Homo sapiens: one gene and its partner. The gene in region 2 interacts genetically with the main gene of each other region. Each region holds a gene or a part of one and is shown on either strand. Other genes may lie near its edges.

Evidence for each region. Genes that interact genetically often act in the same process or in processes that back each other up.
Region 1: changes in EDA (region 2) and ERBB4 together harm fitness less than expected from each alone (positive genetic interaction), as found in Homo sapiens cells (one large-scale study listed by BioGRID).

Annotation. Positions count from the first base shown.
Region 1 is NC_000002.12:211,380,299-211,385,323, reverse strand, and holds part of ERBB4 (receptor tyrosine-protein kinase erbB-4 isoform JM-a/CYT-1 precursor), read left to right. Parts: intron 1-1,263; coding exon 1,264-1,709; 3' UTR 1,710-5,025. UniProt on the Homo sapiens protein: Tyrosine-protein kinase that plays an essential role as cell surface receptor for neuregulins and EGF family members and regulates development of the heart, the central nervous system and the mammary gland, gene transcription, cell proliferation, differentiation, migration and apoptosis.
Region 2 is NC_000023.11:69,957,259-69,962,950, reverse strand, and holds part of EDA (ectodysplasin-A), read right to left. Parts: intron 1-5,692. UniProt on the Homo sapiens protein: Cytokine which is involved in epithelial-mesenchymal signaling during morphogenesis of ectodermal organs. Functions as a ligand activating the DEATH-domain containing receptors EDAR and EDA2R. May also play a role in cell adhesion.

The DNA.
Region 1 (5,025 bases), on a different chromosome or scaffold from region 2:
AATAAGTCTTGTACTTCTTTTTCACAGAATTGGGAGGATGAAATGATAGTGTCTTGTAAAGGCCTATATATGATAGTGGGATATTCATTACTGCCCTTTAAGTTGAATAAATGATGCTAAATACTTACCTATTCTGTATATATATATTTGGAGAAAAATAATCCTCACTTAATAGGATTTTTCTCTCTACTTATTGGGCTAAGGATAAAAGACAGAAAGTTTGTTTCAGAATGGCCTCTCAACAAAGAATTGTGCCCTCTTCATGCCTTGAATTCAAAATAGGAATAGCTTAGGGCTTTGTGTATATAGTAAAAGAGAGGACTGTCAGAGGACTTACAATACATGCGTGTTTATGTCTATGTGCAGTCTATATTATAGACATAGATGTGGAATTAAGCTTCAGGAGAATGGTGATAATTATTAGCACCTTTTAGGCCAATACCTATACTAGATGGATTTATTAGATTGATCCGTACAAAATAGGCACTAATTGACTGGTTTCAATATACAAAATTTATTTTATTTTATATAATTCAAGCTGATAGTTTGCTACTTTGTGATTATGATTGGTCAATGGAAATATTATAATTATACTTTACTATTAAGTAGAAGTATATGTAATGTCAAGCAGGTCAACTAGAGGCATGTTAGCTATCTGTTAGATTTGCTTTTTTAGTTGAATTTTTTTCCTTTGATGCTTTCTTTTCCATGTGTAAAACCTTTTTCAGAAGCATCTCCAATTAAATCCTTGTTACCAGTATAGGCAATCATAGCAAACCATAGAGACTAAAAAACATGATTTCTTCACTCCATCTATTCATCTTGGCATGGAACTCAGCTATAGATTCTTGTTTTTTCAATATCCTTTATAGAAGTTAAGTTGTCTGTATATTTAAAGACTATTTAATCCTAATAGGTAGTCTTATTTCCTAATATAAATAACTTTTAGAAAACAAAAACATTGAAACAACCAGCCCCATATGCAGAAGAGACAAATGCAATTAGAAAGAAAGAAAAATTTAGGAGATAGAAATTCTGATTCTGGCCTCGTTGGCTTCTTGTTTTATTATAAACATTTTTGACCCACTTACTCTTTTTTTCATAAGACAATGGTGATCCACAAATACTTGTTGTGAGAAATCATGAAAACAAATCTGTGGGTTTTTTTGTTCTAGACAAAGAAGCTAACCATTATGTATAACCTTGGTCTGATTAATATTTTCCAGAAACTAGAGGTTAGCTGATATTTTTTTATTCCTTTAGAATACCTGAATCCAGTGGAGGAGAACCCTTTTGTTTCTCGGAGAAAAAATGGAGACCTTCAAGCATTGGATAATCCCGAATATCACAATGCATCCAATGGTCCACCCAAGGCCGAGGATGAGTATGTGAATGAGCCACTGTACCTCAACACCTTTGCCAACACCTTGGGAAAAGCTGAGTACCTGAAGAACAACATACTGTCAATGCCAGAGAAGGCCAAGAAAGCGTTTGACAACCCTGACTACTGGAACCACAGCCTGCCACCTCGGAGCACCCTTCAGCACCCAGACTACCTGCAGGAGTACAGCACAAAATATTTTTATAAACAGAATGGGCGGATCCGGCCTATTGTGGCAGAGAATCCTGAATACCTCTCTGAGTTCTCCCTGAAGCCAGGCACTGTGCTGCCGCCTCCACCTTACAGACACCGGAATACTGTGGTGTAAGCTCAGTTGTGGTTTTTTAGGTGGAGAGACACACCTGCTCCAATTTCCCCACCCCCCTCTCTTTCTCTGGTGGTCTTCCTTCTACCCCAAGGCCAGTAGTTTTGACACTTCCCAGTGGAAGATACAGAGATGCAATGATAGTTATGTGCTTACCTAACTTGAACATTAGAGGGAAAGACTGAAAGAGAAAGATAGGAGGAACCACAATGTTTCTTCATTTCTCTGCATGGGTTGGTCAGGAGAATGAAACAGCTAGAGAAGGACCAGAAAATGTAAGGCAATGCTGCCTACTATCAAACTAGCTGTCACTTTTTTTCTTTTTCTTTTTCTTTCTTTGTTTCTTTCTTCCTCTTCTTTTTTTTTTTTTTTTTTAAAGCAGATGGTTGAAACACCCATGCTATCTGTTCCTATCTGCAGGAACTGATGTGTGCATATTTAGCATCCCTGGAAATCATAATAAAGTTTCCATTAGAACAAAAGAATAACATTTTCTATAACATATGATGGTGTCTGAAATTGAGAATCCAGTTTCTTTCCCCAGCAGTTTCTGTCCTAGCAAGTAAGAATGGCCAACTCAACTTTCATAATTTAAAAATCTCCATTAAAGTTATAACTAGTAATTATGTTTTCAACACTTTTTGGTTTTTTTCATTTTGTTTTGCTCTGACCGATTCCTTTATATTTGCTCCCCTATTTTTGGCTTTAATTTCTAATTGCAAAGATGTTTACATCAAAGCTTCTTCACAGAATTTAAGCAAGAAATATTTTAATATAGTGAAATGGCCACTACTTTAAGTATACAATCTTTAAAATAAGAAAGGGAGGCTAATATTTTTCATGCTATCAAATTATCTTCACCCTCATCCTTTACATTTTTCAACATTTTTTTTTCTCCATAAATGACACTACTTGATAGGCCGTTGGTTGTCTGAAGAGTAGAAGGGAAACTAAGAGACAGTTCTCTGTGGTTCAGGAAAACTACTGATACTTTCAGGGGTGGCCCAATGAGGGAATCCATTGAACTGGAAGAAACACACTGGATTGGGTATGTCTACCTGGCAGATACTCAGAAATGTAGTTTGCACTTAAGCTGTAATTTTATTTGTTCTTTTTCTGAACTCCATTTTGGATTTTGAATCAAGCAATATGGAAGCAACCAGCAAATTAACTAATTTAAGTACATTTTTAAAAAAAGAGCTAAGATAAAGACTGTGGAAATGCCAAACCAAGCAAATTAGGAACCTTGCAACGGTATCCAGGGACTATGATGAGAGGCCAGCACATTATCTTCATATGTCACCTTTGCTACGCAAGGAAATTTGTTCAGTTCGTATACTTCGTAAGAAGGAATGCGAGTAAGGATTGGCTTGAATTCCATGGAATTTCTAGTATGAGACTATTTATATGAAGTAGAAGGTAACTCTTTGCACATAAATTGGTATAATAAAAAGAAAAACACAAACATTCAAAGCTTAGGGATAGGTCCTTGGGTCAAAAGTTGTAAATAAATGTGAAACATCTTCTCATGCAATTATTTTATTATCCAACACACTAATCTTTTGATACTTTATATAATTCCCTTTCTTCATATACTGCATCCAGTACTAGAACCATCATTATTATGTATCATTTTGAAAGAATACCTGATGAGATGAAGGATGAGAACAAATGACAGAGATGAGTCTCCAAGTAAAGGGGGCCTCACATCAATAATTAGGAAACTTAGATATAAGTCGCCCTTTTCTGAAAATTCTACCCCAAGTCATTTAGATTTTTAAAAAATATTTCTAATGTTAAAATATTGGGACCAAATTAGAATCAATAGTATAAGATTAATTAATTAGAGTAAAAATATCTATTAAGGCAGAGAAAGTTTAGAGAAAAAAATCCAAAGAAATTTGTGTTTCTTCCTATTCTGAACAAGTAAATCCATCCATCCATCCATCCAAACCTCCTTTATCTAACTGTGTCTACTAAAAGCACCATGTTTTGTGGGGAACACTCAGATAAATGGAATATCATCCTCAACTTCAAAATTCTATGATCTAGGAGATTTAATTAAAATGACATTTTAATTTTTCTATGCGTTCCAACAATCAGATTGCATAGTCTCTTTTGTGAATAGCTGTCATATAATCAGTTGTACTGTAAGATATCTCCTTTAAACTCATTTGGGATATAAGTTAAACATCCTTCAAATTGTTGATGTTGACAAACAGGATAATTTCAATAATATTATTCAAACATAAACTGGTCTAGGAGAATATTGCATCACTGACTAATTAGCCTATCTAGAGTCTAACTTCACCATTAAACCAAAAGCAGATGGTGGTCCTTGGCCAAGAATATTGGAGACATTGGAGTTGGTTTTTTTCTAAGCTATAAGAAGTGAGGCGAGCTGAAAAAGTATGGTAGAGCAGGAGAAGGGTTTGTGAGATTCCTTCTAGTGAAGTTCACCCTCAAACTTTTCAGGGGTAAAGACACAGAGTGATTCAGGGGCCACAATCTAATAGCTCAGGGCTCTCCTATCCATTCAGAGAAGTCTCTAGGAAAAGGGATCTCATATCAGTACTTATGAAAAATTGAATATAAGCCTCCCTTTCTAAATAAATCTGCATCGAGTCATCACAGCCCTCTTTTTGGATACTATACCTTGATTTTTTTTTTCTGATTTACAATATGCATATGGTTTCTACTGGGCTATAGAAAGCAGAATCACTCATTTTGGAGAAGGAAAAAATGAATAGTTAAAACAAACTTTTAACTGTTAAGGTAACAGAAATGTATTTAGTGAATGTCTCTTTCCTCCTAAGAACACAAGACTTCTACATGTTGGGTAATACCTAGAGATGCATGTAGGAATAATCCAAAATGACCCAAATGCTTTATAATAGCACCACTTTATAATTCTTTTGAATGATTTCTGTAGTATATAATTGACTTCAGTTGTTTGAGTGTTTTTTGTTTTATTTTTGTCCCCCCTGGGAAAACATATTTCAGCATGTATAAGAGGGAGAAAAAAAGTTTCATTCCTTCCAGAGAATAACTTATTTAGTCCAGTAGGGTAGAATTTTAAAATGTCAGTTAAAGTCTTCAAAGTGCTTGGGGGGATATCAGATTCCAGAGGCCAATTGTAGCAATTGAAATTTGCAGAATCAATTATGTAAATCTGAGACAAATTAGTATTAAAATTACACGGAGTATATTTTTTAAATCACCCAACTTTGTAGATTATACCTATTTTGGGCAGGTATGGAAAAATTTTGCAGTTAAATGATTGCCTAAAGAAAGTGGTAAACAGGTGAGGAAAGATGGC
Region 2 (5,692 bases):
AGTGTGAGGCTTGGAGTCTTCTTCCTATGGGCTTGGATAGCATGAGTGAGAACAAAAATGGGCAATTTGGCTGATAGAGAGCATTTCTGAAGAAATTATAATTGTTGTCCATAAATTAGGGAATGTGAATGCCCCAAATGCCTGGCACACCATACTAGTGTGTTCATTTTCCAGAGAGAGCATAGTAATAGCACTTAATAATTTTTGAAGTATTTTTGTAGGCCAGGTGCAGTGGCTCGTGCCTGTGATCCCAGCACTTTGGGAGGCCGAGGCGTGAGGATCATTTGAGGTCAGGAGTTTGAGATCAGCCTGGCCAACAAGGTGAAACCCTGCCTCTACTAAAATATAAAAGTTAGCCAGGTGTGGTGGCGGGTGCCTGTAATCCCAGCTACTTGGGAGGCTGAGGCAGGAGAATTACTTGAACCCAGGAGGCGGAGATTGCAGTGAGCTGAGATTGCACCACTGCACTCCAGCCTGCGTGACAGAGCGAGATTCCCTCTCAAAAATAAAATAAAATAAAATGAGGTACTTTTGCAGACATTAACACTTTTGATAAACACAACAACTCTATGAGGTAAGCAGGGCTAATTATCCCTGTTTTAAGGACAAGAAAACTGAAGCTTAGAAGTACGTGACTTCTCCAAGTTCACATGGCTGGTAAGGTGGCAGTGACATCAAGATTGGAATCAAGAAATTGCAGCTCAGTCTAGTACCTCTTCTATTACACCATGCTGCAATTTTATTCTCTTACCAGGACGGAAACATGGAAGGCAGGCAGGTGTGGAGAGATATTAAGATTTTTATTAACTCCTGAAAATGCTCCTATCGGAAGAGAACAGATGTTTTTACAATAATATTTGTGAAATATGGAAACTACCTCCTTGGGAATTCTGGATTCATTTTACCTGATTCTAAGGCCTCATGACCTCCCAAATACATTCTACATTTCATTCTAACTAGAAAATAAAGTTCTGTGGATTTCTGGAGTGCTGTGCAAGAGATGACCAAACAAGCCACCTGGAGCTATTATTACTTCAGAAACACATCACAAAGATAAGACACAGCAAGAAATCCTGGCACAGATTTCTAGAACTGTTGTGACTCAACACCCACAGTGAAGGTATCATACTTTCTTTGAAGAAGAACAACAACCAAAGGCCTCACATAATTAGTACGAATAAACTTAAACGATCTGAAATACTTCTGGCCAACTCAAGTCAGTGAATTCAAGGAAGAAATGTAGTAAAGAAAACGAAATTCACTTCTTTTCTAAGAGTTGAAACTAACCATGTGTTTGAGACTCCTGCTTAGCTAGCCAATGCTTTCATTTATAAAGTAATTTGAATGGAGAAACTGAGATGAACCTAGTCATTCTTGAATGGTGAGTCAGAAAGATTGTATATACCCTGGATATTGCCACTGACTTTCTTTTTAAAAGGCAAGATAGACTATGTGTATGCTATGCCTCTAATCAACTAGTTTAATAGTCTGATGAAAACAGGAAAATAGGCTTCTGCAGCCTGATTTGTTCTTGGTGAACCTATGCAGCTCCTAAGGATCACTACATCCCTTCCGTTTCCAAGAGTTAATGAACTGTTTATAAAAATTTTTTTCTCTCACAGGGATTTGTGGAGATCATTAAGCTTAATATCTATAGTTCCTAGAAAGAAAGTCTAGGCTGGATGCAGTGGCTTACCCCTGTAATCCCAGCACTTTGGGAGGCTGAGGTGGGCGGATCACTCAACGTCAGCAGTTCGAGACCAGCCTGGCCAACATAGTGAAACCCAGTCTCTACTAAAAATACAAAAATTAGCTGGGTGTTGTGGCGGGCACCTGTAAAAAACATTTGTTAAATGATGAATGACCAAACAAATGAAGTAGGGTCTAGACTTTCTTTTTCTTTCTTTCTTTCTTTCTTTTTTTTTCTTTTTTTGGATGGAGTTTCACTCTGTTGCCTAGGCTGAAGTGCAGTGGCACGATCTTGGCTCACTGCAACCTCTGCCTCTTGGGCTCAAGCAATTCTCCTACCTCAGCCTCCTGAGTAGCTGGGACTACAGGTGTGTGCCACAGTGCCCCGCTATTTTTTTTTTTTTTGTATTTTTGGTAGAGACGGGGTTTCACCATGTTGCCCAGGCTGGTCACGAACTTCTGCCATGTTCTTAACTCTTCAAGGTAAATGACTTGTTCTTTGACACTTGTGAGGCAAACCTGAGCTTAGATAGTTAAATTTTTATTATAACATATCAAGTAATTTGTGAATTTATAATCAACACCTGATAAGATTTTTTTTTTGGCCATAACTCACCCCACTATGATTTACCTATCCCATCCTACCTCTTATTCTGTTCAGAGCAGTTTCCAGACTGACTCACTTCTTCAATGACAAGTCCTTTGTACAAAAGAGAGTCATCTTATTTTCATGATACACAGTGATGTTTAGTGTAGACTTATATATCCACTTGGCTGTTTAATAGCTACCTCAAATTTAACAAGCCTAACTAAACTCTTTCCCCATATTCCTCTACACTGCTTCTCTCCTTTGCTTCCTCATCTCAGAAATGGCAATTCTACCTGTTTAGTTCCTGAAGTCCAAAACCCTGGGGTCACTGATGCCTCTTCTCTGTCTGTCATATCCCTTATCTAATCAATCTGAAAAATCCTTCAGCCATTCCTTCAAAATCTCTCTAAAATCTGACCACTTCTCCCCACCCACACTGCTTCCATCCTGGTCTAAGCCACCATCATCTCTTGCCTGGATTATTGTAATACTCTCCTAAAGATTCTTCCTGCTTGTATCCTTTCTTCCTGCACCTATTTTCAATACAGCAGCCAGAGGAATGCTGTTAAAACATACATCAGATCCTGTCATTCCTCTGCTCAAAATCCTCCAGTGGTCCTCCATTTCATGCAGAATAAAAGCCAGAGTCCTTACCTTGGCCAACAAGGCTCTAGATTGGATTTTGCTTTCTTAACTCATCTCCTTCCCTCTTCCTCTTCTTACTCTGCTCCCAGCCACACTGATCTTTCTGGAACATACCAAACATTCTTCTGCTTCAGAGCCTTTGAATTTTCTGCTTCTTTTTTCCCCAGACATTTGCATAGCTCTTACTTCATTTCATTCAGGTCTCTTCCCAAATGTTCCCTTATCAGAGTACCTTCCTTGATCATCTTACAGCATACCCCATCACTCTCTCTCCCTGTTGCTCAGCTATATTTTTCTTCATACCACTTATCAAATTTAACCAACTTTATTTATTGTCTGCCTCTTTATGCTGGAAGTAAATCACTTTGAGGGCAACAGGACATATTTATTGAGGGTCTACTAGGTGCCAAGTCTGTTTCTAGGCAGTGGGAATATTAAAAAAAATCCTTATTGAATGTTTATTCAAGTACTATATAAACTGCTGTATTTACTTAGTAAATATTTGATGAGTGTATTGAATAAATATAGTATACGCTCATCAGAGTAACAAGAATGGTTCAAAGGAAAAGGAGATTTGGATTGACTTACCACTCTTTAACTCATTGGAGCATCTGCCACATCTAAAGAAATGGTTCTACAGACCACCAGGTGAAAAGTTGGAAATCTAATAAAATTCAAGGACCCCCAGGCATTCTATACTCCTAACTCTAAGGGACTCTTGGATTCCTCCAAGCTATACTGATTAAAGAAAAATGCCTGGACTGCATGAGAAACTTGGCATTGGCACCAAGAGACTAGAGTCTAGTGACTGACTAGAGTATCAGATCAGGAGGGAAGTATATAAGAAGTGCTAAAAATTAATGAGAGGCTTTGACCTTGACCAGAGAGAAAACTGTTTTGTATTAGGACAGAATAAACATTCTAAGGAAGATCGGTATCAGAGACGTTGGTAGCTGAATTTGGATAAAGTAGTTTTAGGGAAAGGAGGAAATTATTTTCTTTAAGAGAAAACTTCGGAGGTTAGATGAAGAGGTAAACCTTAGAAGCCATTAGACTTACCACTCAGAGAGGGAGGGAAGACCACGCCCACTATAGAAGGTGATATTGCTCTTACCACCTGTCTCCTCTCTTCCTTTGCAACCAGGGATTATGAAAAGTTTGATGGTTGTGGGAGTAGCCTCAGGGGAAAAGCTGAAGGTGGAGAGACTTACATGTATCAGAGGGTGAGATGATTAGGAGAGGAAAGGGTCCATGCTTCTTAGCTCCCTGCTTCCACATAGCCAGAAGACTTCTGGGAAACTGGCTACAAGTAGTAGGTGAATAATGGGTAACTTTTACTACATGGACTGCATTTCTTAGGCTTGAATTGGTCATCAATTGTATGCAAAATGACTTCTCTAGAGAATGGCCCCACTGGTCCAGTTCTCCATTCAAAGGCTCAATGCTGCTGCCACCTCCACTGACTAGAAAACCCTATCTTACTGCTCTGGCTCTTTTTTTTTTTTTTTTTGGTATTATTATGGGGTCCTTGTTCTGAGCTCTTTCTCAGATTTCAGCCAGTTATACTTCTTATTGCCCCTACTGACAAAGTCCTGGCTCCATCTCTTTAATAGCTTCCGCCCTCTAAAACTGCTTCCATCAGTGGCCCTTACTCACATCAACAAATGTCAGTTTAAAATTTTCATTTTCATCTGTATAAAGTCATATTGCTTTGTAACCCTCCAGACACATATTATTGGCAGATGTAGCCAGACACATGCTGTCTTTGAATCCAGATGCCTTTGCAGCAGCCCAGAGCTATGTATTCTACAAACCCCTGTGCCCAAAGGGGTAGCATTATGTCAATTGACAGAGTGATGCTGAAATATCAGAGCAATTCAAAGACCCTGCCCAGGAGCTAGCTCAACATTTTGTTATGCCCCACAGAATGCATTGCTAGTTAACTCAAAGCTATTACACCCAGAACAGGGATGGTTTCCATTGATACATCACTGCCTAGCTGAAGGGGCAGTCAACATCATCGACTTACATAACAATCACCAACAATGTTCCAGATAGTAGGCTAGATTCTAGGCTTATACAAAGAGAAATGAAATCTCTGCCCACAAGAAACTTATAAACTAGTTCTAGAAGGTCTAGTTCAGATTTGGGCATGGTAGTGGATACCAACATTGATAAAATTATCATTGGAATTAACACATCATGTAAGTGCTAGCAGGGTACAACACTGTCAATTCCAAGAATAGAACCAAATCCTCCTGTTGACCTTAATAGGTGTGGGACATCTCCGGGAGAGATGAGGCCCTTATAGAGGGTGATTTTGAGAGATACAAATGCTATCATGGCTCTCAGACATACTGAGAAAGGACTGAAGGTATCTGGAGTTGGAGGAGGGAGGATCCTTGTATAGTTAGTTCTATGTTAAAGGACTGATTGGTAGGTTAGGCTGCAGAAATAGTCTATGACCTTGGGTCTGTGGTGGACAGTATATAAGATGATGAAGCACACTTGAAAAGGTAGTGGTTTTTTTTTTTTGTTTTTTTTTTTTTGAGATGGAGTCTCGCACTGTCACCCAGGCTGGAGTGCAGTGGCACAGTCTCAGCTCACTGCAACCTCTACCTCCCAGTTTCAAGCGATTCTCCTGCCTTAGTCTCCCAAGCAGCTGGGACTAGGCCCGGCTAATTTTTTTTGTATTTTTAGTAGAGACAGGGTTTCACCATGTTGGCCAGGCTGGTTTTGAATTCCTCACCTCAAGTGATCTGCCCGCGT